3 separate regions of the Homo sapiens genome follow, and all the other regions are linked to region 3. Evidence: fine-mapped expression QTL. A gene starts in region 3. Each other region holds a variant in brackets. All regions are shown on one strand. Distances are from middle to middle.

What was found.
Region 1: its variant is fine-mapped to the expression of RARA in whole blood (TOPMed, PIP above 0.99).
Region 2: its variant is fine-mapped to the expression of RARA in whole blood (INTERVAL, PIP 0.96).

Annotation. Positions count from the first base shown.
Region 1 is chr17:40,334,899-40,345,760 of GRCh38, reverse strand. All of the region lies in intron 2 of RARA (retinoic acid receptor alpha), which reads right to left. It overlaps RARA-AS1 (RARA antisense RNA 1), which reads left to right and starts at 2,625. Exons shown (of 3, transcript NR_110861.1): 1 at 2,625-2,885; 2 at 3,071-3,765; 3 at 4,061-4,894. RefSeq lists silencers at 227-276, 4,037-4,266 and enhancers at 1-431, 2,633-3,182, 3,647-3,696, 3,183-3,733, 3,769-4,347 and 2 more. The variant C/T (reference allele first, on the strand shown) is at 5,693.
Region 2 is chr17:40,212,656-40,223,517 of GRCh38, reverse strand. It overlaps WIPF2 (WAS/WASL interacting protein family member 2), which reads right to left and starts at 4,214. Exons shown (of 8, transcript NM_133264.5): 1 at 4,026-4,214. RefSeq lists enhancers at 3,595-4,373, 4,274-4,383, 4,824-4,873, 10,267-10,561. The variant A/GCCGCCGCCA (reference allele first, on the strand shown) is at 4,150.
Region 3 is chr17:40,304,536-40,313,333 of GRCh38, reverse strand. RARA (retinoic acid receptor alpha) reads right to left here and starts at 4,154. Exons shown (of 9, transcript NM_000964.4): 1 at 4,048-4,154. It overlaps CDC6 (cell division cycle 6), which reads right to left. Exons shown (of 12, transcript NM_001254.4): 12 at 8,677-8,798. RefSeq lists enhancers at 868-1,368, 2,958-3,841, 4,153-4,282, 4,293-4,462, 3,842-4,727.

The DNA of each region.
Region 1 (10,862 bases), 31 kb before region 3:
CGGGGGAGGGACTGCCCGGGCCTGGCCCATCCCTGCTAACCTCCCTCCCCAGAGGCCCAGCCCACCAATCTCTCCTCTTCCTGCAGAAGGACTCGGGCTAGAGAAGGACCACACCTTCTCAGCTCAAAGTTCCAGCGCCCAACAGAGGACTGGAACTGACCCAGGAAGCCAGGCGTCCCCTCCCGCCGACGCTGCCAGGGTGCCCCTCCCTCGCTCCCCATCCTGGCAGGGCGGGCGGCGCAGAGCGCTCCACTCCGGATTCCCCACGCCCCCGAGCCGTTCGCAGGCTCGCACAAGGGGCCGGTTTCCTGGAGGAGATCAGCAGGAAATCAGCCGGGCCCCCGGCCAGCGGCTCCCCTCCCAATCCAGCTGGCGCCCGCTCCTCCGCAGCTCCCCTCGCAGCCCCTGGGGATGGTTGGGGAGGGGGCGTAGGGCCCTCTGTACCGTCCTTCCTCCTCCCGGGGAGAGGCGGGGGTAGCTCTGGGTGTACCGCGGCAGCGGAAGAAGGCCCCTAGCCCAGCGGCCGCCTGATAAGCGTCTCCCCCTCCCCCAACTACGGGCATCCACGTGCTTCACATTCTTGGACGTCTGGGAGCGGGCGGAGGTGTGAGTGGCGGAGATTGGTGGGAGACAGATGGGGAGCCACATCCTGTGCACCCCCCTTGTCCTCTAATGCACCGAAATGAGGGCTCTGGGGAGGGAGGCAATGTCCCTAGGGCCCTGCAGAACCCAGGCCACCTCCTCCCAGAGCCAACCTGCTCTTCCCACCTTCAGTGGCAGTAAAGGGGAGAGTGGAGAATTCCCCAAGAGGGGGCTGGAGGCAGCTCCAGTCACCAGCGGACTTCCACACACCCAAGGGGACCCTTCCAAGGTGGTGGCATTGGCCCCACATATTCTAGACTGAGTCTAGTTGCCACCCTCAGACTCCGGGTCCTTCCTGTGCCTCAAGGCAAGCCCCCAGACCCCCATCACTCCCAACCTCACAGCCTCAGGACCCGAGTCCACTGACACCTCACTCACTTATATATGCACACCCACGCTCAGACTACGGGAACTGGAAACCCAGGCCTCTAGGTCTACTACCCCACCCCAGAATGGATGTGGGGACAGGTCTCCACTTCCCCATGTCCAGTGGTTTAGGGGAAGGGCTCACCAATACACTGCCTGTCCTACTCTCTGTGATCCTCCTCCCTCTCCAGTTCTGGGCCAGGAAGAGCTGAGCTGTCCCCATGGGCTAAGAAGAGACAGGGGCTGGAGACCAAGGTCTCAGATCCCAGCTTCTCTCCAGCCCTCTGGAGAAGGTGGCCAAGGCAGTGGAAGGGGTGACTCTGGCAGCCCTGCTCCAACTATCCCCCTAGGGGAGGGGGGTCTTGCTCCAGCACTGGGAGAATGAGAAAAAGGGTCCTAGAGTCATCCTCTCACTCTCTCTTCTTCCAAAGTCAAGGGTGATACCTTCCCTCTTGTGTCTACAGCCACACAGCAGATTCGGCCCTAGAGGAAATGGTCGGGGGCAGGACAATAGGAAAAGCTGGGATAGAAGTGGCTCTGGGAGGGCAGAGGTGGGCTGTCTGTCCATCTCAGGTCTCTCTTCTCCCAGCAAGAGGGGTGGGGTAAGTCCTTTGCCCTTCAACCTTCTCCAATCTGCCAGGGCCCCCCCGAGACCCACTCCACCCCTCCTCCCTGGCAGGCAGGAGGGAGGCAGCAGGTCCAGGAAGGTGGGAGATCCTCCACGGAAGAGCTTCCCCTCCAGCAAAGAGCCCAAAGCCCAGGAGGGGAAGAAACCTGAGCCATCTAACAATAACCCCCTTGCGCCTGCTCCCGCCCACCCAGTGTACACTGCCTCACAGCTGCGCAGGAAAATGCCCAGGTGTACACCCTGGTGCTCCGAGCTCCTGAGTGTGCACAGAGCCCTTCCTCCCAGAGGAGCCTGCACCCAGGCAGGGGGCAACAAGGAGAGAAAGTGACCAGGCTGCCAGGATGCTAGGATTCTCATCAGTGCCCCTCTTAGGAAGGCACAGCCCAGGACCTGGCCCTATCCCCAAGTGAAGTCAGGGTAACAAAAGGACTCGGTGGCGGAGCTGGGAAGGGATGCAGTCCTCATTTCCAGAGCAGCCCCAGACCCACAAAAACAAACTCATTCCCCAGAGAACAAACCGGATTAGGATTAGGGGGAGAGGGATTCTTCTCACCAGAGCAGCTTCTCCCCTCCACTCCTGGGGATGAAAGCCTCAAAGATGACAGCCAAGTGTCTGGGGCCAGGACAACAACCCCATAAGGACCCAGTGCCCCTTGCCAAGATGGAAGGTTAGGATGGCAGACGGGTGTCTGATGAAGTTGCCCCTTTCTGCCACACCCCACTGTCAATACCAAAGACACTGAGTGCTCCCCTGACACCCACTCTAATGACGCAAGAGCAAGGGCTGGGGGCAGCAGCTGTCGCACAGGAAGGGGCTCTCCCTCGGGCTTTGGCAAGTGGGATCTGGCGGGGGGGCCTTCCCCCGGGAGCAGACAAACCCACACAGACAGGACCTTTACCCCACCCTCCAGCCTGCTGTGAAGCTGTTGGATTCCAGGCAAGAAGATATAAACTGGGGGCAAGGGGCTTGGGCTTCATTTCTCCTGGAAGAAGTGAAACAAGAGATGAAGGAATGTTGCTTGAAAGAAGGAACTCTCAAAGTTCCTCAGCCCTAATCTAACACAAATTGCACTTAGGGTTACTGGGGGGAGGGTGCGGCCGGGAGGGTTCAATTGTCCAGCAAGGGCAACACGGGTTAAGTGAAAGGTAGAGACAGGACCTCCACTACACCCCGGGACTCTCACCCCCGAGTAGTAGTGGAAGCCCTACCGCCCACTCCCACCCCCTACAACAGCAGACTGAGAGGCCGGTACGTACAGTGGTTTGAGCCATTCCAAAGCGGAGTCCGGAGCGGGGTGGAGTACGGACCCGGGGCGGGGAGCCCCTTCTCTGGGAGCAAACAGGCCCGGTTCTGGTTATAAAAATCCACCACTAGGAAGGGATTAGGGGTGGGACCCCCCACTTCTACACTCTCGTACATCTTTCCCCTCGAAGGCAAGAGGTCCGAGCTGGGAAGTCCTGCGCGCCGCCCCCGTCACTCAGCCGGCGGCGCCATCCGAGCAGAGCAGCTGGGGGAGAGGAGACGTCCCCTCGCCCCGACTGGTGACCCGGGCAGGGGGCGCCCCCTGCCCTGAAGTCCCCGCGTCTAAGTCCGCCGGCCGCTCCGCCAGTCCCGGTGAAAAGCAGGGAAGTTGTGTGTGCTGGGAGGGGGGGTCCGTCGGCTCTCCCAGGGAAGCCTGGCGGGGCCCGGGAACTCAGCGGCTTCACCTCGAGGGGACTCCCGTCTAGAGTCTCGTGGCGTCCGAGGCAGAGTACAGCGGCTCCCCAAGTCCGCAGGCCGGGGGCGGGATCAGCGCGGGGCTGGGGGTCAACGAGCACTTCCTCCTCCCAGCCGGGGATCCGGGGCTTCTCCAGGGATTCTCCGTGGCGAGGATTCCGGGTGGGGGTGGGGATCCCGCGCGGTTCCGCCCCCGCCAGGCCAGGGGCAGCTGGCGACTCGCTCGGTCTCTGGTGGTACGCGCCACGGCCCCCCCACCCCAGCTCTGCGCGCCCCCTCCCCTCCGGGCACCACCCCCTTTCCACCGCCCCGCCCCGTCCAGGCACCGCCCCTGGCTTAACCCATTCCCGGCGCGTCCGGCTGCAGCGGGAGAAACGCAGGGAACCGAGAGGGAGAGGCGGCATGTGGACAGGCAAGTGGGGGCAGCCTGGGAAGGGGGAGGAGAGGAGAGAAGCAGGAAGGGGGAAAGGCTCCAGATGAGGAGTACACAGAGTACAGAGGGACGCCGAGTACAGGGAGAGGAGGGGGCTGCGAGGGGACAAGGACGGAAGAGGGGCGGGCGTCCTCCCTTGTACCAGTTCCGGCTCCCAGGCTCCCCCAAGGTTTGGTCAGTCCCTGGCCGAGCGAAGCCGTGGTGGAGGAGGTGGTGGGGCGGGGAAGAGGGGGGTGGTCCCGGTGTCCTCCCCTTAACACACACCCCCACCCAGGCCGGGCCTCATTTGCCTAATGCAATGCGGCTGAACTCTCGCTGAACTCGCCTGGCGGCGCCTCACCTCCGAGTGACCCACCCACCGCTGCCCGTGACATCACCCGCTCGCCAGCCCGCCCGCGGGGCTCGCCCGCCAGCCCCCTGCCCGGCCGAACCGGGCCACCTCCCCCGGAGACGCGGAGAGCGGCGGCAGGAGGCGTAGGGCCGGGTCGCGCGGGGCCAAGTGTTTGGCACCCGGGTGTGACATTGTGCAGCTCGGACGCTGTGTCGGAATGAGACACCGGCTTGTGTCATTGTCTGTGACATCATGTGTGACTCCGGCCGCCGGAACCCGACGCGGCAGCGCGGGTGCTGTTGGCACAAACACAGGCAGAGGGGGCCCTCCTCCCCACGCTCTGCGTGCTTCCGGCGAGCAAAGCCCCGCCCAAGGTGTCTCCTAGCTGGGGAACCAGTACCGGCCCCTGGTGCACTGTCCAGCTCTGGAGAGATAAAAGGAAGAGCTGGTGCCTTCCAGTGGACTACTTCATCCTAGAAGCCCTCGGGATGCACGTTTCACTGGAAGAAAGGCCTAGCTTGGGTAGGTCCCTAGAAAGAGGGGATACCCCTGGAGGAGGGGGTATCCTATTACCCCCACTCTCTAAAAGGAAGGATGGAAATGTACATGCTACCCAAGGACATTCTTCTAGAAGAAGCCTGGCTCTTTATATATGTTGTCATTTTATCCTCACAGCAACTCCAAGAGATGTTTTACAAATAAAACAGGTCTCAGCAAGGCTATGTGGGTTGTCCAAGATCACATTACTAATAATAAAGAGTAGAGCAGGTATTTGAACTTCCTGCTGCCAAAGCCCATGTTCTTACCAAGCTAGGCCAATTCAAGGTATTTTTCTGAGCACCTTCTATGTGGACACCCTGGGGAACCTGCCCTTGTAGACCTTAGGGAGCAACAGCCATTAAGCAAATAATCACTGTATGCACACACAATTGCAAACTGAGATAAATGCTATTATGCTCTGAAGAATTAACATAGGTACCTAATTTAGGTTTAACTAAATTAGGGAAGAACTCAAATAAAACAGACCTACCATAAGAGAAAGTTTGTAAGTTAATCAGGCAAAGAGTAGAAAGGAGTGTAGTTCCAGTTAAAGGGCGAGTCTGTGCAAAGGCCCTGGGGTTACAGCAGTTGATGAGTTCATTGAAGGAACTGGCAGAAGGCTAGAATCATGGGGCACAAAATTCAAAAGGAAAAGGTACACAAGACCAGGCTAGAGAGGTGGGCTCAGGCCAGACCAGGGGGGCTTATAGGCCTCAGTAAGGCTTTTGGATTTTATCCTAAATGCAAGGAAAAGCCATAGAAAGGTTCCAAGCAAAGGAAAGATCAGATTTACAGTGTAAAAAGATCTTTCCAGTAGTTGTGTGAAGAATGGATTATAGGAGGGCAAGAGAGACCAGGTAAAAGCTACTGCAGCAGTCCAGGCATCAGACAAGGGTGGCTTGGCCTAGGAAACTGGAAGTGCTGATGGACAGAGGAAGGTGGATTCAATAAACATTTTAAAGGTACAAATAACGTGGGGGGGTGGGGGTAAGGGGTATGGGAAAAGAGGTAGCAAAGAGACTTGTGTGTGACTTA[C/T]GCATCAGTGAAGTTCCTGAGACTGCAAAGCAGAGAAGTCCACTGGGCTGCTGGACAGGTGGATGTGGGGCCCTGAAGTGCAGTCAGGGCTACAGATGGAATGCTGGGGTCTGGGGGCAGGTATGCAAATCTTGACAGTGGATGAGACTAATGGCGAAGAGGACAGAGTGCTTCCATGCCTTCGGGATCTTTCAAATGATGGAGCAAGGCTCTGCGCTCACAGCTGCAAGGCGCTAAGGGACCTGAGACTCTGTCCCTGCCATCAAAGACCTTGTGGTCAGGAAAAGATGTCCCAAATGGTTACAGCTCATGGCAGGAACAGGGGAGAAGCAACTTCTGGGTAGCGAGATGAGTGTTGTTAAAAAATAAATAAGGACCCACAGGCATTCTAAGTAGGGAGGCAGAGTGTGGCAAGCAAGGGGGAACATCTGTGAAGATTTCTGGGAAGAGGCGGCATTCAAGATGTTCCTTGAAGGATAGATAGGATTTCCGGAGCTGGAGAGGAGAAGCTAGGGCAAGAGGCCCGTTCTGGGCAACAGCAAGGTCATGGGGCAGGTCAGAGCAGAACACAGTGTCCTGGGGCAGTGGGAGAAGTGGGAAACAAGGAAGGCTCTGGCCCGCAGCTGGGGCTGGGGGGCCTCCAGCGGCAGCTGTCTGCAGGCCTGGGGCCCCATCCTGCTCAGCCTTATCCCTCCCTCAGCTCCTTCTCAGGGCTTTGCGTTTAGTAAGCCCTCAGCAGGTGCAGGCCAAACTGGCCCCCACTTGTGCCAGGCAGGGCCCCCTCCTGTCCCCAACCCCATCTGGAGGGGACAACAAACAGGAAATCATGAGGCCCAGTGCCAGGTGGACACTGGCTCCCAGTATAGAGTGGCACCATCCCCCAAGACAGTACCCAGCTCTACCCTGCCCCTCACTATCACAGCCTTGCTGGGTACGTGAAACTCACCAAGGGCCTCAGCAGGAAGCAGGCGACCGTGGCCTAACGGCAACTCGCCCAGCCAAGGAGAGATTAGAAGTTTTGCTCTATTTTTTTATTTTTATTTATTTATTTGAGACAGAGTCTCGTTCTGTCACCCAGGCTAGAGTGCAGTGGTGTGATCTCAGCCCACTGCAGCCTCCACCTCCCGGATTCAAGCAATTCTCATGCCTCAGCCTCCCAAGTAGCTGGGATTACAGGTGTGCACCAGCATGCCCAGCTAATTTTGGTATATTCTGTAGAGATGGGGTTTCGCTATTTCGCTATCTTGCCAAGGCTGGTCTTGAACTCCTGAGCTCAAGCAATCCTCCCACCTCGGCCTCCCAAAGTGCTGGGATTACAGGCATGAGCCACCGTGCCCACGCTTTTTTTTTTTTTTTTTTTTTGAGTCCAAGTCTTGCTCTGTTACCCGGGCTGGAGTGCAATGGCGCGATCTCGGCTCACTACAACCTCCACCTCCGGGTTCAAGTGATTCTCCTGCCTCAGCCTCCCGAGTAGCTGGGATTATAGGTGTGAGCCACCGTGCCCAGCCAGAAGTCTTGCTTTAAGGAGGAGGAAACAGATTTGGAGAGAGCTTGGGTGACCTGCCCAAGGCCACACAGGAAGAACTGTCCTTTAAGACTCCTGCCCATGGAAGGCCCTTGGTCTGTGGGCTGGTTGAGGTTTCCAGCAACCCAGAAGTCAAAATGGGGAGGGGAGCACCTCTATTTCTGACAGCCAAAGGTTGAGTGGCCTCCAGTCAACCCTGGGAGGCCCAATCCCTCGCTGTGCCCCAACTCCACAGAGGAGGAGGAGGAAGAAGGCACTGCCCCAAAATGACTTAGAGATGGAAACCACTTCCTCTTCCCACAGACACTACTCCCTCAAAGGGCAGGCAGGCCTGCACTGGTACAGCCCCATAAGCAACACATCCCTTGGCATGGGGTAGACACAATACCTCGGCCCTGACCCACCTAAAAGGAAGACGGGCTTCCTTCCCTGAGTTCCCTCCCCGCGTCTATGCTGGGATCTTGTCCAGAGGGAACCTGTGCATTATCCTTGCTGGGAGATAAAAGGTGAGGGACCCCATTTTCATTAAAAACTCCATGTCATGTTCTTTTGTCTGACTCTACATTTCGGACTCCAAGAAAGGCATTGCTAGGCAGCACTCCCTCCACCTGGGCTGTCCCTCTGCCTGGGCTGTCCCTCCGCCTGGGCTGTCCCTCCTATTGTCCAGGGAAAGAGTGGGAAGCAGGGAAGGAGGCAGTATGCACAGACTGCAACAGCGAGGAAGTGGCAGAGGATAGGAAGAAGGGAAGGACACAACCTCCTCCTTTCTGCCTTCTGCTGGGGCTCACCCAGACCCTCGGGCATTCCCCAGTCTCTAGGCACACGAAGCAAACATGCAGCCACCCTTTTGGGGCTCCCATCCCCGGCTCCTCTGTTGATGGCTTGCAACTTCTTTGCCTCCATCCACAAATTGAAACAAATTAAGAATAAGAACTGTGGCTTTTACATTCTGTTCCTTCAGTGTCTGGAGATCGGGGGGAGGGTGCCCGCTGAGTTCTGCAAACTCCCGTGGGCTACAGCGGGCAGATTTGGGGGTGGGGATGGTGTGAACAGATTGTATCCACAGCTTCCAGGACAGGATGGAGATCTGGCCCAGGCCCCTTATCTTTCTTTCTCTCCAGCCTTCAGGATCCAAAACAGAGAGGAGGGGGTATGGCTTGGGCCTTCCCTACACCCCCTACCGGGGAAAGGTAGGTTCTAAGGCAGAGAAAGGGCCTCTACAGTGGGGAAGGGGGTTTCAGTCAGCACTAAGCCCCACCCCCCACACTTCCCACACCCAAGAGTGTGCCCCACAATCCACTCTCAAAGCTGCCTATGTAGATGGTGGAAAACAGCCCAGCTTTACAATCCTACAGTCATGATTCTGCAGTACTTTAACCTCCCCCAGCACTGTGTCCTCTGTGTAAGTGGGGATAATGTCCCTCTTCCAGGATTGCAGGGATTAAAATTTGTAAAACACAGACAAAGCCCCTGACACACAGTAGGTGCTCTATAGATGTTAGCATCCCATTCTCTCCAGCTCCCACCTACAAAGGGTCTGGGTCACGGCCAGGCACAGTGGCTGATGCCTGTAATCCCAGCACTTTAGGAGGCCGAGGCGGGCGGATCACAAGGTCAAGAGATGGAGACCATCCTGGCCAACCAACATGGTGAAACCCCACCTCTACTAAAAATACAAAAATTAGCTGGGCGTAGCGGCACACGCCTGTAGTCCCAGCTACTTGGGAGGCTGAGGCAGGAGAATCGCTTGAGCCCGGGAGGCAAAGGTTGCAGTGAACCGAGATCGAGCCACTGCACTCCAGCCCGGGTGACAGAATGAGACTCCGTCTCAAAAACAAAACAAAAAAATAACAACAAGCCGGGCGCGGTGGCTCATGCCTGTAATCCCAGCACTTTGGGAGGCCGAGGCAGGCGGATTGGGAGGTCAGGAGATCGAGACCATCCTGGCTAACATGGTGAAACTCCATCTCCACTAAAAATACAAAAAATTAGCCGGGCATGGTGGCATGCATCTGTAGTCCCAGCTACTTGGGAGGCTACAGGAGAATGGCTTGAACCTGGGAGGCAGAGGTTGCGGTGAGCCAAGATCGTGCCACTGCACTCCAGCCTGGCTAACAGAGCTAGACTCTGTCTAAAACAAATAAATAAATAAATGAATAAATGTCTTTGGCCAGGTGCAGTGGCTCACACCTGTAATCCCAGCACTTTGGGATGCCGAGGTGGGCGGATCACCTGAGGTCAGGAGTTCAAGACCAGCCTAATAAGGAGGAACCCCATCTCTACTAAAAATACAAAAAAATTAGTCCAGCATAGTGGCGGGCGCCTGTAATCCCAGCTACTCAGGAGGCTGTGGCAAGAGAATCGCTTGAACCTGGAGGCAGAGGGTTTCAGTGAGCTGAGAGATTGCACCACTGTACTCCAGCCTGGGCGACAGAGCAGGACTCCGTCTCAAAACAAACAACAACAAAAAAGAAACATGCTCAGAGAGGTTATCAGCAAGTTGTATGTGACATAAATGTCCAAGTTGTTGTTGTTTTTGAGACAGGGTCTTGCTCTGTCACCCACCAGGCTGGAGTGCAGTGGCGTGATCATAGCTCACTGCAGCCTCAACCTCTCAGGCTCATGCAATCCTCCCACCTCAGCCTCCCGAGTAGCTGAGACTATAGGCACACGCTACCACACCTGGCTAATTTCTTCTCTTTGGTAGAGGCAGGGTCTCACTATGTTGTCCAGGCTTGTCTCAAATTCCTGGGCTGAAGTCCCTACCTCAGCCTCCAAAAGTGCTGGGATTACAGGCAGGCGCCACTGCACGCAGCCAGTGTCTTAAGTTTTATTTTATTATCTTTTTTTTTCGGAGACAGAGGCTCGCTCTATCCCCCAGGCTGGAGTGCAGTGGCATGATCTCGGTTTACTGCAACCTCTGCCTCCTGGGTTCAAGCGATTCTCTAGCCTCAGCCTCCCGAGTAGCTGGGATTACAGACACGTGCCACCTCGCCTGCCTAATTTTTGTATTTTTAGTAGAGATGGGGTTTCACCATGTTGGCCAGGCTGGTCTCAAACTCCTGACCTCAGGTCATCCGCCCGCCTTGGCCTGCCAAAGTGCTGGGATTACAGGCATGAGTCACCACGCCCAGCCCAGTGTCCAAGTTTTAAACTCAGCACTAAATGCCTACTCCACAGCCCCCAGTCAGACCCCTTTGCCCATGGAATTCCCAGGGTGAACAAAAAAAGGCAGATCAGTTCTCCCCTCCAGCCAAGAAAGGTTAAGAACCCAAACGAAAGACCACTCCTCTTTAAACACTCTGTGCCCTAAGTCACTCCCCCTCCCAGCCCCAACACCAACACACAGACAGGCTGACTCTCCCTCCTTAGCTCTGGATTTAATTCCCCCAAAACACACTCAGCTCTCTAACCCTCTCACCCAATACACACAAGTCATTAATCCCCTTCCCAACACACACCCAACCGTGACCCCACCCCCAAAACACACACAGCCCTGACCCGTAGTGCACACAGAATCTGAGACCTCCACAGTAAACACCAGTCTTCAGAGACCAAGCCCCAGGGGCCAGTTTAGGGGGCGGGGAGAATCGCCGGACCATCTCTAGGGCTCCCACCCTGGCTGTAGCAGAACAAATACACAGC
Region 2 (10,862 bases), 91 kb after region 3:
GAGTCTAGAATCTCTTCCCTTCGTAAAAGCCATCAGTAAAACCTGAAAACTCCAATGTTCACACCTCTCCTGCATTTCACCTTGGTGCTATCACATAACTTATCAGTACCAGCTAGGGTAAACACTACTCTAGTATCAAGTGTGAGGTGGAATTAGTAAATGACCAGCCTGGCCAACATGGCAAAACCCTGTCTCTACTAAAAATACAAAAATTAGCCAGGTGGCACATGCCTGTAATCCCAGCTACTTGGGAGGCTGAGCCAGGAGAATTGCTTGAACCCAGGAGACAGAGGTTGCAGTGAGCCAAGATTGTGCCATTGCACTCCAGCCTGGGCAATACAGCAAGACTCTGTCTCAAAATAAATAAATAAACAAATAAAAAAACAAACACTACATTCTACTAGTCTTCATCAATTGACTTCATTCATCTCCACCTTCCCCAACTCTTAACTTCCCTATCTTCATCTTGATGGCAACCAATGTAACACAATATGAAATTTTTACTTTTAAAAGTTGACATTAATAAGAGTTAAAAAACTAAACATGCGGCCAGGTGTGGTAGCTCATGCCTGTAATCTCAACACTTTGGGAGGCCGAGGTGGGTGGATCACCTGAAGTCAGGAGTTCGAGACCAGCCTGACCAACATGGTGAAACCCCATCTCTACTAAAATACAAAAAATTAGCTGGGCGTGGTGGTGCATGCCTATAGTACCAGTTACTTGGGGGACTGAGGCAGGAGAAGCGCTTGAATCCGGCAGGCGGAGGTTGCAGTGAGCCAAGACTGCGCCATTCCACTCCAGCCTGGGCAGCAGGAGCGAAACTCTGTCTCAAAAAAAAAAAAAAAAAAAAAAAAAAAAAAAAACTGAATATGCATCAAATCAAAACCAGTTCTTCCCTGGCTGGCACGCAGACACACACACACACACACAAACACACACACACATGAGCAAGGCTAAGAGGAAGAAACAGAAAAACATGTTTCCTTTTGTTGTTGTTGTTGTTGTTGTTGAGGTGGAGTTTCGCTCTTGTTGCCCAGGCTGGAGTGCAATGGCGCGATCTCAGCTCACTGCAATCTCAGGTGATCCACCACCTTGGCCTCCCAAAGCGTTGGGATTATAGGCATGAGCCAGCGCGCCCAGCCTTGTTTTCCTTTAAGAGACAGGTCGGCCAGGCGCGGTGGCTCACACCTGTAATCCCAGCACTTTGGGAGGCCAAGGTGGGCAGATCACGAGGTCAGGAGTTCGAGACCAGCCTGGCCAATACGGTGAAACCCTGTCTCTACTAAAAATACAAAAATTAGCTGGGCGTGGCAGCACGCGCCTGTAATCCCAGCTACTTGGGAGGCTGAGCCAGGAGAATTGCTTGAACCCAGGAGACAGAGGTTGCAGTGAGCCAAGATTGTGCCATTGCACTCCAGCCTGGGCAATACAGCAAGACTCTGTCTCAAAATAAATAAATAAACAAATAAAAAAACCAACACTACATTCTACTAGTCTTCATCAATTGACTTCATTCATCTCCACCTTCCCCAACTCTTAACTTCCCTATCTTCATCTTGATGGCAACCAATGTAACACAATATGAAATTTTTACTTTTAAAAGTTGACATTAATAAGAGTTAAAAAACTAAACATGCGGCCAGGTGTGGTAGCTCATGCCTGTAATCTCAACACTTTGGGAGGCCGAGGTGGGTGGATCACCTGAAGTCAGGAGTTCGAGACCAGCCTGACCAACATGGTGAAACCCCATCTCTACTAAAATACAAAAAATTAGCTGGGCGTGGTGGTGCATGCCTATAGTACCAGTTACTTGGGGGACTGAGGCAGGAGAAGCGCTTGAATCCGGCAGGCAGAGGTTGCAGTGAGCCGAGATCACGCCACTGCACTCCAGCCTGGGTGAAAGAGCGAGACTCCGTCTTAAACAAACAAACAAAAAAAGAGACAGAGAGAGAGATGGGGTATTGCTACGTTGCCCAGAATGGTCTCGAACTCTTAGACTCAAGCAATCCTCCTGCCTCAGCCTCCCAAGTAGCTGGGATTACAGGCAGGTGCACCATTGTATGTCTTTTAAATATCAATATCTCAATCTCATTTTCAGAGATCACTTCTATGCAACCACTTTAAAGATCCCATGTGTTAAGACAAACTTTTAGAGGCAGGGACAGAGAAAACCTATATTTCAAAGGGGAAAAAAATGAGAGCTTAATAATTTGCCTTGAAGTTATTTACTAAATCCATAGGTAGGCTAAAACTGTCCTTATTCCCTGTGGTTCTCTTCTGATTTGTAAAAGGAGAACAGAATAGCCAAAAACATTCAGTAAGACAGTCAAAAACCAAAACCGTAAGGCAAAAATAACAGCATGAAAAAGGACGGGGACCCTGGGAGAGCCCAAAGCAATAACAGATTATTCAAGTCCTTTAAAAAATATGAATTCTGGACAGGCGCAGGGGCTCACGCCTCTAATCCCAGAACTCTGGGAGGCAGAGGCGGGCGGATCACGAGGTCAGGAGATCCAGACCATCCATCCTGGCTAACACAGTGAAACCCCGTCTCTACTAAAAATTCAAAAAAAAATTAGCCAGGTGTGGTGGTGGGCACCTATAGTCCCAGCTACTCGGGAGGCTGAGGCAGAAGAATGGGCGTGAACCCGGGAGGCGGAGCTTGCAGTGAGCCGAGATCGCACCGCTACACTCCAGCCTAGGCCACTGAGCGAGACTCCATCTCAAAAAAAAAAAAAAAACGAATTCTGGGCCAGGCACAGTGGCTCATCCCTGTAATCCCAGCACTTGCGGAGGCCGAGACAGGAGGATCACTTGAGCCCAGGAATTCCAGACTAGCCTGGACAACAGGGCAAGACTCTGTCTCCAACAACAACAACAAAAAAATATATATATATACATATATATATATATATATATATATATATATATATATATATATATACACACACACACGTTAGGCGGGAGTAGTGGTCACACCTGTGGTCCCAGCTATTGGCGGGGCTTAGGTGGAAGGACCACTTCAGCCCGGGAGGTCGAGGCTTTAAGGAGCCATGATCATGCCACTGCACTCCAGCCCGGGCGACAGAGTGAGACCACGTCTCTTAAAAGAAAAAAAAAGAAAAAAGAATTCCATCACATATCAGTTCCTTGCCTCAATGCTATTTTTAAGAACTTTCCTTCCTGATAAAAAACTCGACCATACACACTGCCATGCTGAACACTTTAACATTTCCATCTTGGCCGGGTGCAGTGGCTCACACCTGTAATCCCAGCACTCTGGGAGTCCAAGGTGGGAAGATCGCTTGAGCCCAGGAGTTCAAGACTAGTCTGAGCAACATAGCCAGACCCCACCTTTAAAACAAAAAAAAAAAAATTCCATCTTCCCTCACTTCACACCACTTCAACATGAACCCTCAACTCCAGACGTTCCAATGCGCATCTTAACATTCTCAATCCAACCTTTAACTAAATTCTGATTCCTTTTCAAAGAACGCTCTCAAGATTCCCTCTAGTGTAAGCAGTTTCCCGAGCCATCTTCCCAAACACTAGCTTTCACCTAACTCAATCCCCAAAATGTCACACTGGACTCCTCACCCACAGCATCCTGCTAATTAGCCGTTCCCAACAGGTCCTCCGTTCCCGTCTCCCTTTTTGCGCACGATTACCTCGTTCCTCACAGAGTTGCCGCCTTAACTCACCCAACCCTTCAGGAGCCCTTATTGCCTGTCTCTCAAAAACGTTCCTCCCCATTTTTCCAGTCCCCGCTCGCCCCATACCAATATTCGACCACTCCTCCCCAGATTCCCCACGCCCTCTCTCCTCCAGGTTCTTCCGATACAGTCCCCCGGCCCCCCGCCCCTCAGGCCCCACCCGCAAGACCCCTCTCCCCCTCCGGCCCCTCCTCTAATGCCCCCCTCTCTTCTCAAGCCCCGCCCCGAGCCCCCCTCCCCGCGACTTTCCCTCCCACTCAGGTCCGCAGGTCATTTCAGCGACTGACCCAGCCGCCCCGGCCTCTTTCCGACCTGGCCGCAGCTGCTCTGGGAGCGAATCCTCTGCCGCCTACACTCCGGCTTCGTCCTGTCCTGCTCGCCCCCCGGCAAGCTCTTTCTCGCCGTCGCCGCCGCCGCCGCCGCCGCCGCCGCCGCC[A/GCCGCCGCCA]CCGCCCCTTTTGCCAACCCGGAAATGGATCTGCTCCCACCGTCCCCAGCGTCCGCGAACAAAATGGAGGCGGGGGAAAAAGGAGGAGAGAGCAGGGAGCGGAGAGATGCGAGACGCATGCGCCCCTGGGAAGCCCGCCCCCTGCCGGCCCACGTAAAGGCGGAAGCGGTTGAGTGGACGCCATCTTAGGAAGGTCACAGGAATTCCGCTTACCAGCTAAAAGCTGGGTTTGCAACTTTAGCTGCAATTGGAATCACCTGGCAAGATTTAAATACTATGATGCCTGGTTCCCACCCCTGGAAATTATAATTTAATTCTGGGGTGCAGCCTAGGCATCAGGAAATTGTTGCAGGTGATTCTAACGTGTTGCCAAGGTGGAGAACCACTGAGCTAAACAGTCATTGTTGAATATACTCCTTTCGTCTTTAATCCGCCGCACACACACACACCCTCCCCCCTAAATATCCTTCCTTAATCTCGAGTTAACGAAGAACCCGCCTCGGCCAACCTTGCAAAGGCCAAGTAGTCAAGCTCCGGTTGTCATGGCAACAGAGGCAGGCCACTGCTCACAAGTCATCATTTACGTCATCTTACCCACCTGACTCGAACACCGTCTCTTCTTTCTCGGGCTGGGGTTTCCTCCAGCTTCCAGGGCTATAGGATGGTGCTGTGGACCCCTCCAGCTGCTTGGGCCAGAGAGAGAAATCCTGTGCCCTCTTTGATGGAGCTGCTGTTAAACCCTGACAGCTGACTAAGTATCTCTCCCTAGTCCACCCAGAAAAGCGCTTTCCATTATAGCTTCAAAATACTCTTGGTTTAATTCCATTCCCAGCACAGAATCCGAAGTAAGGGGGCAAGATTGGGACTTAGTCCCCATTACTTACAAGCTGTGTGCCATTGGGCCTTAGCTACCCTATCTGTAAAATGGGTCTAATAGTGCCTGTCCCGTCTGTCTCATAGAGTTGTTGCAAAGCTGAAATCAGTTAATGAATGGGAAAACGTGATAGAGCATAAGTTGTTATTATTTTTGTTTTCCTTCTATTCTGCCATGAGTAGTACTAGGCACCACCCACTAGTCAAGTAAATGTCACATTGAGTACCTGCTAAACACCAGGAGATGGCTACAGAGGTGACTAAGACAGAGCCTCTGCCCTCAGGGAACTCACTACGTTGGTGGGCAGACTGGCATAAACAGCTAGCTGAGATACAAGTCAGCGTGTGATTAGTGCTGTGGGACGTCAGACAAGGGAGCAATTAATTCCTGCTAAAGAATGGAAGGAGGTTTCCTAAATGGTTTGGAGCTGGGCCTTGAAGGATGAATGGAATTTTATTATTAATCAGAGAAGGCAGGGAACACAGCAGGCATAGGGATCAAGGACACGAGGTAAAGATTTTCAGCTGTCTACATCCTGCATGGCCATACGTGGGGCGATGGAGCCAGGGAGATGGTGGGTCCAAACACCTTACCAGAGCCTCCCAACTCTTCAACCTCATCCCCTGCCTGTCCCCTCCTCACTCACTCTACATTATGAGGACCTGATTTCTATCACTGCAATGTACCCCATTCAGCAGTTCCCACCTCAGGGACTGTGTACTGGCTATCCTCCGCCTCTTCCTCATTTTTCAAGCCTTACTGCAAATGCTTCGTCCTCAGAGGGCATTCACTGCCCACTGTAGCTAATGTAAAGCCCCATGCTCTATCACACACTCTGTGATAAGGGCAGCCGCTGGGATGAATATAGGGACATCTCACCCAGACTTGGGGAAATAGTGATATAGGCTTCATGAAAAAGGTAAATGGCCCAAGTGCAGTGGCTCATGCCTGTAATCCCAGCACTTTGGGAGGCTGACAGGGGGGATCGCTTGAGCCCAGAAGTTCAAGACCAGCCTGGGAAACATGGTGAAATCTTGTTACTACAAAAATTACCCGGATATAACCGGGCACGGTGGCTCACGCCCGTAATCCCAGCACTTTGGGAGGCCAAGGCGGGCAGATCACCTGAGGTGGGGAGTTCGAGACCAACCTGACCAACATGGTGAAACCCCGTCTCTACTACAAATACAAAATTAGCCAGGTGTGTTGGCACATGCCTGTAATCCCAGCTACTTGGGATGCTGAGGCAGGAGAATCGCTTGAACCCAGGAGGCGGAGGTAGCGGTGAGCTGAGATCACTCCATTGCACTCTAGCCTGGGCAACGAGAGTGAGACTCTGTCTCAAAAAAAAAAAAAAAAATTAGCTGGACACGGTGGTGTGAGCCTGTGGTTCCAGCTACTTGGGAGGCTGATATGGGAGGATCACTTAAGCCCAGGAGATCAAGGCTGGGCTGAGCCATGATTGGCCACTGCACTCCAGCCCGAGCAATAGAGTGAAACCCTGTCTAAAGGAAGAAAAAAGAAAGTAACTAAGTGAGGCCATACCCATATTCTAAGTGAGACTTGAGGGACAGGTAGGAATTGACCAGGGAAGAAGTGAAGGAAAAGCATTGTAGGGAGAGTTTGGGCAAAGCAAGAAGAATCATGGCACATTCCAATAACTGAACGCACTTTTTTTTTTTTTTAAGAGACAGGGTCTTTTAAAGACATGCTGCAGTGCAGTGGCACAGTAATGGCTCACTGCAGTCTTTTTTTTTTTTTTTTTTGGAGACAGAGTCTCGCTCTGACGCACAGGCTAGAGTGCAGTGGCGCAATCTCGGCTCACTGCAAGCTCCGCCTCCTGGGTTCACACCATTCTCCTGCCTCAGCCTCCCGAGTAGCTGGGACTACAGGCACCTGCCACCATGCCTGGCTAATTTTTTTTTTTTTTTTGTAGTTTTAGTAAAGACGAGGTTTCACCATGTTACCCAGGATGGGCTCGATCTCCTGACCTCATGATCCGCCCGCCTCGGCCTCCTGAAGTGCTGGGATTACAGGTATGAGCCACTGCGCCTGGCCTGCAGTCTTTTTATTTTTTCTATTTTTTGAAAATGAGTCTCACTCTATTGCTCAGGCTGGAGTGCAGTGGTGTGATCTCAGCTCAATGCAACCTCCATCTCCTGGCTTCAAGCGATTCTCCTGCCTCAGCCTCCCGAGTAGCTGGGACTACAGGCACCAGCCACCATGCCTGTCTAATTTTTGTATTTTTTTTTTTTTGAGACAGAGTTTCTCTCTTGTTGCCCAGGCTGGAGTGCAATGGCGCAATCTCAGCTCGCCTCCCGGGTTCAAGCGATTCTCCTGCCTCAGCCTCCCGAGTAGCTGGGATTACAGGCGCCTGCCAACACGCCCGGCTAATTTTTTGTATTTTTAGTAGAGATGGGGTTTCACCATGTAGGCAAGGTTGGTCTCAAACTCCAGACCTCAGGTGATCCACCTGCCTTGGCCTTCCAAAGTGCTGGGATTAGAGTTGTGAGCCACTGCGCCTGGCCCTAATTTTTGTGTTTTTAGTAGAGATGGGGTTTCACCAAGTTGGCCAGGCTGGTCTCAAACTCCTGATCTCAGATAATCCATCCACCTTGGTCTCCCAAAGTGCTGGGATTATGGGCGTGAGCCACCACACCTGGCCTGTAGTCTTGAACTTCTGGGCTCAAGTGGTCCTTCTGCCTCAGCCTCCTATTTGGGACTGCAGGCACTGGTGACCACATGCAGCTAATTTTTACATTTTTTTTCTTTTTCTTTCTTTCTTTTTTTTTTGAGAAGGAATCTCGCTCTGTCCCCCAGGCTGGAGTGCAGTGGTGCAATCTCGGCTCACTGCAAGCTCCGCCTCCAGGGTTCATGCCATTCTCCTGCCTCAGCCTCCCAAGTAGCTGGGACTACAAGCGCCCGCCACCACGCCCAGCTAATTTTTTGTATTTTCAGTAGAGATGAGGTTTCACCGTGTTAGCCAGGATGGTCTCGATCTCCTGACCTCGTGATCCACCTGCCTAGGCCTCCCAAAGTGCTAGAATTACAGGCGTGAGCCACGGTGCCCGGCCAATTTTTTTCTTTTCACAGACACAGCATCTCCCTTTGTTGCCCAGGTGGTGTGGAACTCCTGGCCTCAAGTGATCCTCCTACTTCGGCCTCCCAAAGTGCTGGGATTACAGGTGTGAGCCACCTCACCTGGTTCAGAAAATATATTGATATAGAGTTAGAACTTCTGGGGGAGGCAAGAAATTAGGTTACAGAAGTCATCATAAGTTTGACATTTAGTAACACTTACCATGTGCCAGGCACTGTCAAAACCTCACATAGCTCATTTAATCCTCTCAATAACTTTCTGAGGCAGATATTTTTAAGCCCATTTTACAGATGAAGAAACAGACACAGCAAGGTTAATCATCTTGCTCAAAGTCACATATCTATAAGTAGCGAAAGTAAAAGTATCTCCAGAGTCTGTGTTTTTTGTTTGTTTGTTTCAGACAGTCTTGCTGTGTTGCCCAGGCTGAAGTGCAATGGCGCGATCTCGGCTCACTGCAACCTCTGCCTCCCGGGTTCAAGCAATTCTTCTGCTTCAGCCTCCCGAGTAGCTGGGATTGCAGGCACATGCCAGCACGCCCGGCTAGTTTTTGTATTTTTAGTAGAAATGAGGTTTCATCATATTTGCCAGGCTGGTCTTGAATTCCTGACCTCAAGTGATCCACCTGCCTTGGCCTCCCAAAGTGCTGGGATTACAGGTGTAAGCCACCACACCTGGCCCTTTGTTTTTTTGTTTGTTTGTTTGTTTGTTTTGAGATGGAGTCTCGCTCTCTCGCCCAGGCTGGAGTGCAGTGGCGAGATCTCGGCTCACTGCAAGTTCCACCTCCCAGGCTCACACCATTCTCCTGCCTCAGCCTCCTGAGTAGCTGGGACTACAGGAGCCCACCACCACACCTGGCTAATTTTTTTTTTTTGTATTTTTGGTAGAGACGGGGTTTCACCATGTTAGCCAGGATGGTCTCAATCTCCTGACCTCGTGATCCGCCCGCCTCGGCCTCCCAAAGTGCTGGGATTACAGGCGTGAGCCACTGCGCCCGGCATTTTTTTTTTTTTTTTTTGAGACAGAGTTTCACTCTTGTTGCCCAGGCTAGAGTGCAATGGCGAGATCTCGGCTCACCGCAACCTCCACCTCCTGGGTTCAAACTATTCTGCTGCCTCAGCCTCCCTAGTAGCTGGGATTACAGGCATGTGCCACCATGCCCAGCTAATTTTGTATTTTTAGTAGAGACGGGGTTTATCCATGTTGGTCAGGCTGGTCTTGAACTCCTGACCTCAGGTGATCCGCCAGCCTTGGCCTCCCAAAGTGCTGGAATTAGAGGAATGTGCTACTGCGCCCAACCCCTTTTTTTTTTTTCGAGACACATCTTGCCCTGTCGCCCAGGCTGGAGAGCAGTGGCATGATTTCAGCTCACTGCAAACTCCACCTCCTGGGTTCAAGCAATTCTCCTGCATCAGCCTCCTGAGTACCTGGAATTACAGGCGTGCTCCACCACACCTGGCTAATTTTTGTATTTTTTAGTAGAGAAGGGGTTTCACTATGTTGGCCAGGCTGGTCTGGAACTCCTGACCTTGTGATCCACCCTCCTCGGACTCCCAAAGTGCTGGGATTACAGGCGTGAGCCACCGCACCCCGCTGAGCCTGTGTGTGTGGTTTTTTTTTGTTTTTTGTTTTTTGTTTTTTTGAGACGGAGTCTCACTCTGTCGCCCAGGCTGGAGTGCAGTGGCACGATCTCGGCTCACTGCAAGCTCCACCTCCCGGGTTCACGCCATTCTCCTGCCTCAGCCTCCTGAGTAGCTGGGACAACAGGCACCCACCACCACGCCCGGCTAATTTTTTGTATTTTTAGTAGAGACAGGGTTTCACTGTGTTAGCCAGGATGGTCTCGATCTCCTGACCTCATGATCCACCCACCTCGGCCTCCCAAAGTGCTGGGATTACAGGCATGAGCCACCGCGCCCGGCCTTTGTGTGTTTTTTTTTTAGATGGAGTCTCATTCTGTCACCCAGGCTTGAGTGCAATGGTGCGACCTCGGCTCACTTCAACCTTCACCTCCCAGGTTCAAGCGATTCTCCTGCCTCAGCCTCCCGAGTAGCTGGGACTACAGGCGCATGCCACCACACCTGGCTAATTTTTGCATTTTTCTTAGAGACAGGGTTTCACTGTTAGCCAGGCTGGTCTCGAACTCCTGACCTCGTGATCTGCCTGCCTCAGCCTCCCAAAGGGCTGGGATTACAGGCATGAGTCACCATGCCTGGCTGAGTCTGCGTTCTTAATGTCCTGGCTGGTGACTTTCCACCCTACCATATCCAATGTCACAGGGTCTTGCTCCGTCACCCAGGCTGGAATGCAGTAGCACAATCATAGGTGGCTGTAACTTGGAACTCCAAGGTTCAAGCAATCCTGCCACAGCTTTCCAAATAGCTGTGACTACAGGCCCACACCACCATGCCCAGCTAATTTTTTTTTTGTTTTTAGTAGAGACAAGGTCTCACTGTGTTACCCAGGCTGATCTGGAACGCCTAGGTTCCAGTGATCCTCCTGCCTTAGCCTCCTAGAGTGCTGGGATTACATGTGTAAGCCACTACACCCAGTCCCAATGTTCCTTTCTTATAACAAATATTTTGCAACACTAATATCCCAAAGTGAAATGAACAGATAATATAACCTGCCTGGACACATGATTTCAAAAAACAAATCAATATGATGTCTTGATTATAAAAAAGACAAATAGGCCGGGCACGGTGGCTCACACTTGCAATCCCAGCACTTTGGTAGGCCAAG
Region 3 (8,798 bases):
CGATCAGAAGCCAGTAGTAATCTCCCCACTCCTCAGCCCTGCTCCCTTCTTTTGTTGGGGAGATGGGCAAACAACCACCATGACCCACAGGTCCTGGGCAGGGCAGGAGGAGGGCTCACAAAGGGCTCTGGGGAGTCTGGACGTCCCTTCTGTAAGGTGTCTCCTAGCCCCACAGCTCACCAGCCTGTGAGCCTGCTGGAGCCTGTCCAGCAGCTCCATTCACACCAGTGGCCACAGGCCACCCAAACAAACCCAACTCTGACCTCCTTCTAGCCTGGACACAGACTCTTTCCACATGGAGACTTATAAACAAACCAAGCTGGGATTTTCAGAGACCCTGCACAAAAAAGCAGATGGGAAAATGGACCAGGTGTGCCTGGCTCGTGGTCCTCCTTGCTGCAGTAGGGAAGGGAAGCACACTGAGCTGTGGTGAGGAACCATGACAACAGAAAAATGGTGCAAAGGGAGGGCCTGGGTTCAGGTCTCAACACAGCCAATGACTGATTGAGTGTTCTCTCTAGGCCTCAGTTTCCTTCTCTGCAAGGGGAAGGGATTGCCTAGGTAGCCTCTAAAACCCCTTCCAGCTCTGAGTCCAGCTGGATAAAGAAAACCCTGTAGGGTGCCAGGACTCTTCCACCCAGTCCAGCCCGGCCCATCTACCTGGGTCATGCCCCTCTGGGTAAGGTCCTGCCCCTGCTCCCCATGCCTCCTTGCTGTCTTCTGCCCCTCTGGCCCTTCCTCACTCCTCTGCCTGCCTGCTTACCCTCACCTTGGCCAGCCCCTCTGCCTGCCCCGTGCTTTTCTGCACGTCCCTCCTGCCAGGGGACTGACCAACTAAAAATAGTCCCTGCAGCCTTTCTCGCCCACAGCTGCCCAAAGAGCAGGAAATGAGGGGGGCAGGGAGGCCCATGCCCTGCCTTACCCCCACTAACTCCCAGGTCAGAATCATGTCCAGCACTCCAGCCTGGGGCTAGCGCCAACTTGGCCATCCTGGGGGCATCCCACACCCCTTTCCTAGGGGGAGGCCTGCCCATAAGTGCCTGCAATCACAGAGCTGCCCCTACCCTGCGGGAGGAGGAGAAAGGAGGCAAGCGGTCTAGAGGGAAACCTTCCCAATTTCTGACAAATCAGTGCCAACCACATTGTGGGCACCCAAAGGGCAGGGCCTGGCTCCACTGACTGGTCTTTTGAGGGCAGAAGGAATTGGCTTGGGGAAGTTTGTGACAGTCTCCTTCATCCTGGCCCAACTGGAGGGAAGACAAAATAGTGCCCCAGCCTCAATTATGTTAGTCCCTTGCTCCCCAAAACCAGGGATTTCACTAGCCACCTGCAGATATCATGGGGAAAAAAACTAAAAAATGAGAGCAGGAGATGTAGGCTTCTGTAAAGAGAGAAGCCTGGAGGCAAGAATAGGCCATGCCTGCCAGGCTGGGCATGTGCTGCCCCCAAGCTGAGTCAGAGGCTAGGAGGGAGAAGCTGGGGTGCTACAGTGCCAGAGGCTACTGTGCCCCCACCCCTGTCCCACCTGGGATTCCTGACACCTCCCAGCCCTAGGGGAAGGCCCTCCCCACAAAGGAGGAAGGAAACCAGCTAAGCGACTCTCTGGAGCCCTGCAGGGGAGCCCTGCACCACAGGCAGGGAAACCCAGGAGTCCTGGCGCCCAGCCCAGAGACAGTGAAATATCTTGGAGGGGAGGAAACAGCCCAGATTGAGGCAGACATGTGGCACCCCCAGAAGCTCCCAGATGTGACCTACTGGCCAAAGGGGCTAGATGAGGCAAAGTGAAACATTTCTGAACAAGAAGAGAGAAGAAAGTGGGGCTATGGGAATGGGGTGGCGGGGGTCAGCCTGGCTCATCGCTGTCCTTTCCTCCTTGTCAGAGTCAGTGACACTGACATTAAGGTCATCGAATATCAACCAGGTCCTGAGGACCTTGGTGTGTTTCCTCCTCTCCTAGTCTCCAGACCCCAGCCTGTTCATTCCTGAGCTTCCTCTGGCACCCCTTCCTTGGGGCCAAGCCAAGTAAGAAATCAGCAGGCCCAAGGTGGTGCTTGGGAGGCCGGGGCAGTGCCAGGGGCAGTCCTCATACCATCCTCCCACTGGCTTCCCTCCTGCCTGCTCTTAGCCGCCACACATATCTCAGCTGTCGAATCCGATTAGGGCTCCTGCCCAGTGAGCCAGACAAGGAGGCCACTGGGCAGGGGAGAGAGAGACAAGGACGCCAAGCAGGGATGGCAGAAGGAAGGTGGAGACATGGCTCAGGGGAGCAAGTATGGGGCCCCAGAGGAAGAAATGCCTGGTGGAGAGATCTGTACTCTGTGACCACAGGTGCTCTGGTAACAGCTACAACCTGCATTAGGGGAATTCTGCAGTAACCGGGGCAATAGCCCTGCCTAGTTCCTCCATCCCCCAGATGGGCAAAGGATGGGGGAAGAAAACTAAAGGCGGAGAGATTGACCTAGATTTAGGAAGAGGATTCCATCCTAGATTCCCCCAGCCATTACTACCGTTTGCAGTGAGCTTTACGATACATTGTCTCTGTGGTTTTAGTGGCAATGTCCCTGCTTGCTACTGATAGCCATTTTTACAAATGGAGAAACTAAGGCTTAGCAAAGGGGAAGACCTATATAAACACATATAGTTAAGTAACCAGTCTAAGTCTCCAGTTCAGGCCTCTGATTCCTAGTTCACTGCTCACAGTCAGAATCTCTACTTTCCTTGTTGGATCAAGACCAGAACGAAGTCTGAAGCCAATTCATTATCCACCCTGTCCTCTAAAACCAACCTTTAGGGGACCCGGGGAGCCATGGAAGAATGCAGAGCACACCCCACACCTAGACAGAGCTACCAGATGGGGACATGCCACCCATTCCTATCATACATTGATTGCTAGAGGAGTTCCCTCAGTGTGACCAGTCTCTTCTATCACCCCCCTCCCCAGTCTACTACCCCCAGAAGCAAGACACACACTCACACATGGTAAGTCAGACAAGGTGTACACCCTTCCTGTAAACCCACCAAACCAGAATGACACGCCCTAGATCTTCAGAGAGCAGGGCCTGTCTGCCCACCACAGGAGAGAAAAATAAGCCACTGTAAACAGTAGGTGCCATCTAGCCCTCTCCCAGAGAGCCTGTAGCGGGGCAGAAGCTTGGGGACCTTGTAGCTCTAGAGAAACACCAGGAGCCTGAGATTCTGAAAGCCAAGAAGCTCAGGGAGCTGGCAAGGCTGGGTGACCTCCTCAATCTGGTCCACACCCCCTTCCCTAGCCATCTGGACTGAGCCTGTTCTGGCCTGGGCCACACTCTGGTATCCCTCCCCTTCAATGCATGCAGCCACCTCTATCCAAAGCTTCTAGATCTTACAACCACATTGTCCCTACACACACACACACACAGGTGGGGTCGGGGGGCTTCTGCAGCAGGTGTTGAAATGTTGACATGGATGGGGGCTCTAAGCTGAAAGAACTTTCCTAGAGGAAAAGCTCACCAAAATGCTCACAACCTCCACTACCCTCTAGCAAAGCCTTTAGCCACCCAAGTGTGAGATGAACCTGGAAGGGGACATTAGTTCCCCTACAAGGTGTGTAGGGAGTAGGGGCAAAGTCCTGAGCTCTTTGGGTGAGGAAGCAAGAAAGAAATCCCTTGGGAAAGCTCAGGTCCCTCTCTGGCTCTCTCCTCTCTCTGTTACCTCAGCACTTGCCAATTCTCCAGTCTAGGTGAGGTGGGGGAAGGGGTATTAGGCAATACCGCAAAGGAGGGTGCAAGGGCGTGGGGCCTGGGCAGACCTTCCCCCTACTCCCCACTCTTATCTAGAGAACGGGAACTGCCTCAGGAGAAATGCAGGAAGGGTGCTGGAGGGTGCAGAGGGCTCTGAGCTTTCAGACACCCCACTGTTCCCAGGCTCCCACCTCCCAGGACTACAGTGAGCGACGGGAGAGGAGGGATGGGGAAAGCCAGAACTGGCGAGAAGGAAATGGCTAGATCAGAAGCAGAGGCCGGGGTCAAAGGCGGCCAAAGAATTGGGAAGGGGTGTGCATGGTCCTACCTGCTCAGGTGTGTGCTGGCAGGGGGCCGATGGGGTTCCCAGGAGAACCGGGGAAGCCCTCTCAGCTCGATTCAGGATTCCCCCCTGCTTCTGGGTTAGGCTGCTGCAAGAGGCACGGGTTCCCGTTGGGTCCTAAAGCCCACTCGCCAACTAGAAGGCTCTCCCCGCCCTCTTCCACCAGCCAGCCCCGACTGGGTCAGCGGGCGCAGAGCGAAGGACTGATGGGGGAGAAGTAACCCACTGGAAGAAAGATGGGCGTCTGGTCATCGGCTGGGGACAGGAACAGTTCCCTGTCTCAAATACACAGCATATGGATAACTCGAGGATAGGATGACCTGAAACAGGAGAAAATAGACATTTCTTCCTGCCTGCCCTGAGCAGATGGATTTAGGTTTTGGTGCTGGAGGTGGGGTTAAGATCTCTTTCCCTGCCACTCCTGCTAAGGCATTCAGCTAGAGATTTTGGAAAGGGAGCATTCATTTTGGTTGGGCGCTCACTTCTGTCCTCTTCCTCATGGACTGCAGGAGTCCCTTCATCCCTCCCAATTATTCCCAAGGACCTAGGAGGCCATAGAGGGTGAAAAAAGATTTTCAGCATGTAAAAAGTGCAGGCTCACTTAGATGGCAGCTGGAAACAGGGGAAACATGTAGGACCAATGTATGTGTATCTGGGAATGTGTGGGGTCTGCAAATACACATATATAGGCAAGAGTATAAACAGGTGGGGTTAGGGAAGGAGAAAAAAACAAAAAAGAACTTTGGGTTACACCTATTACTGGAAATGGTAATTGTCAGTGGAAGAACAGGACGTAGAACCTAGAGGTCAACTAGTGCCCCTACCCAGCCCTCAGTAATGTCCCGAATCTTTATGACCAGAATAAACAAGTTAAAGAGAGAATATTTTCCTAGATACCATTTAGGATAAATATAGGGGCAGAGGGACCTCAATACAACAGATCAACTTCAAGGTCACTGATTCAGTTTAGTATAGCCAGTCTTCTCAGTAGCTCAAAAGGGAGAATTCAGGTTTGGTGGGCTAGATGGGCAAGAGAAAGCTGGATAAGAATTCTGAAGTTGTGGATTGAGAACATTTTGCAAGGAGAGTTGCACATATCTCTAGCAGCAGAGCAGGGAAAACGTCATGAGGGGAAGGGCCAGAGGAAGTCAGCGACAGACTTGAGGGGAGAGGGCATGGCCTCTCCCTAGAAGGGGAGAAGACACCAGCAATGCCTCCACCTCTGTCTTGCAGGAAGAACTGAGTAAAGGAGCTGGACTAAGGATGGAAGGCCCCAGGGTGGAGTCCATGGGGTGAGTTTAGGTCAAACCTTTCACCCTAATGTGCCTCAGTTCTCTCCCAGCTGTTAAACAGGGCTCTTCGTTCTTCCCAGGCAGTTAATGAGTGTTTACAAAAGGGTTTGGAGATCCTCAGATCTCAGCTGGGCCACCACTACAGTTATAAAGTTCAATAAGAGCTGAGTGTTATTTGGGGAGGAGAGGAGTAGGGGAAGGAAACAGATACTCTCTTATAAACTAAGGATAAAACTAAGCTCAGAGAGAAGCACAAGCCTAGCTGCCACAGGATATCCTTGTGCCCATGGATGGAGGTCACCCCACCCCCCCATCAACCACCACCAAAGGCTGGCCTCCAGCTAGCTGTAGGCAGAACCCAGACTAGCAGCTGGTCTTCATTAACTCCAGCTTTTTCACCCCCCACTGTGAACCCACAGCTTCTACAGGCCTAGGCTAGAGGGGGCTGCCCTAGCCCGACCTTGCAGCTGACACTGGGGTGGGGGGCACCGCACCAAAGGCCAAGTTACCAGCTGAAAAGAAAGTTGAAGCAAGAGTCCTTTTTCCCATTGGGAGCAAGAAGAAAGCAGTGTGGGGGTGAGAGGGTGGAGGTGGGGGAATTTAGGGCAAACAGCAGGCAGTGAAGTCAGCTGGATTGAGGCCCAGAAACCCCCACACCCTGGGGCCAAGTCTTACTCTAGCTTTGCTTTCAGCTTAAGTCTTGGCGAGGCCCCAAACTAGGGAAGGCCCTGGTTGCCCCTTTCCGCCTCCCTACCCCCACCCTTATTAAATACACATTTTATCTCTCAGCATCTTCATTATCTTAACTGAAGGAGACAAGCAGTGGATGGCGGCAGCAGAGAGCGTCAGGAGCGGGGGGCGGTGCGGGGAGCAGGCGCACCCTTGTTATAAAGTGCTGATCTAGCTCTTTCAGGCAGTGTGGGAAACAGAGGAGGGATCAAAGGGAGTGAGGCTGATTCAGAACTCAATTAGAGCTTTTTAAAAAACGAAGCTGGCTCTCTCCTTTCACCAGTCTTCAGCCTTTACCCAAGCCCCTTGCACCCAATTAACTTCCACTACCAGTGCCTTGGGGCTGGGGTTGAAAATCAAGGGGAGGCCAGAGGGCACACCTTCTCCCCTTACGGAACACACCTCTTCTAAGAGGAAGACCTGCACTGTTTGTAGCTTAAGAGAAGGTATCTTAGAAAGTACCTTATCTTTTCAGGAAGAACCTGAGATCACAACTTGCCCCAAGTTAAAAAGAGGGACATCAAAGGTGGGCTCCTCCCTAAACCCTTGCCTACAGACCCAGCTTCTGGCCAATCTAGCCACACTGAGTGACATCCAGACAGGCAGCCCTCTTCACAGCCTGTAGATAAGACTCTTCCCCTCATAGCCAAAGCGTCCCACCAGCAACATGGAAGTTGCCTCAAGCAAAATGCCACTACATCAGAGGGAGTGATTGGAATGCATCTGTGAGGCTAATAAATGCTCCAAAACTGTGCCAAGACACATTTTGTAAGACAGAGCACCCTTCTTATGCAGGGGCCTGCTCCACCTCTGTGCAAAAGTACCACCAACGTTTACCTTCAGCTTAGAACTGTTCTCACCACTGAGGGAAAGGCAGTATCTTATTTGGTTCACTTATCTGTTAAACAACTATTGAGTACCTACCAGGTATTAGGCACTATACTAATTGCTAGGCACAGATACAAATGTAAATAAAATTTCAATCTTGGATCTCTTTTGTCCTCCCTCAGCAGTCAAGGTAACACGTCTCAAGATATTTAAAAAATATATAACCGGCCAGGCATGGTGGCTCAAGCCTCTAATCCCAGCACTTTGGGAGGCCGAGGCGGGCGGATCACGAGGTCAAGAGATCGAGATCATCCTGGCTAACACAGTGAAACCCCATCTTTACTAAAAATACAAAAAAATTAGCCGGGCATGGTGGCGGGTGCCTGTAATCCCAGCTACTCAGGATGAGGCAGGAGAATGGTGTGAACCCGGGAGGCGGAGCTTGCAGTGAACAGAGATCGCGCCACTGCTCCAGCCTGGGTGACAGAGCAAGACACCATCTAAAAAAAAAATATATATATATATATATATAAATAATATGTATATAATATATAATATGTATATTATATATAATATACATTATATATATAAAATATATATAATATGTATATAATATATATATAAAACCTAAATCACATCTTATTCCCAACTTCTCATTCTTATTGGTGTATCTGCTTTCTGTCTTTTATAGAGACAGGGTCTCGCTCTGTCACCCAGGATGTAATGCAGTGGTGTGATCATAGCCCATGCCGAGTTGAACTCCTGGGCTCAAAGCATCCTCCCATCTCAGCTTCCCAAGTAGCTAGGACTACAGGTGCATGCCACCATGCCCAGCTGATTTTTAAGATTTTTTTGGTAGAGAAGGGTAAGGGGGTCTCACTATATTGCCCAAGCTGGTCTCAAGCTCCTGACTTCAAGTAATCCTCCCGCTGCTGCCTCCTCCCAAAGTGTTGGCATTACAGGCATGAGCCACCACACCTGGCTTGATGTATATTCAAAGGGACACTTAGTAAAGGTAGGGAGCAATGCAAAAGAGGGGGCGCAGAGAGAATAAGGCTCTGCCAACTTTTTGATCTCTGGGTAGCTTAGACCTCACACATTTTTTTTTTTTTTTTGAGACAGAGTCTCACTCTGTCACCCAGGCTGGAGTACAGTGGCATGATCTCATCTCACTGCAACCTCCACCTCCCAGGCTCAAGCAATTCTCCTGTCTCAGCCTCCCAAGTAGCTGTGATTATAGGTGTGTACCATGGCACCCAGTGAATTTTTGTACTTTTAGTAGAGACAGGGTTTCGCCATGTTGGCCAGACTGGTCTTGCACTCCTGACCCTTAAGTGATCAGCCCGCCTTGGCCCCACAAAGTGCTGGGATTACAGGCATGAGCCATCACACCCAGCATTTTTTTTTTTCCTTTTTGAGACAGTCTCATTCTGCTGCCCAAGCTGGAGTGCAATGGCACGATCTCGGCTCACTGCAACCTCTGCCTCCCAGGTTGAAGCGATTCTCCTGCCTCAGCCTCCCAGTAGCTGGAATTACAGGAACACACCACAATGCCTGGCTAATTTATTTTAGTAGAGACAGGGTTTCGCCATGTTGGCCAGACTGGTCTCAAACTCCTGACCTCAGGTGATCCGCCCGCCTCGGCCTCCCAAAGTGCTGGATTACAGGCGTGAGCCACCACCCCCAGCCTGGACCTCACACATTCTTGCAGAGTTAGCTAGCCACAGGCAAGTCTCCATTGAGCCAGAAACATCTGTGGCAGCTCTGGGGTTGAAACACACAATTTATTTTGTCTATGCTCTTTCCATGGCAACACCCAACACTCTATGGAAGCTTAATCAGCTTCCTTGGGGTGGGGGAGAGAGATAAACCAGGATATAGACACAC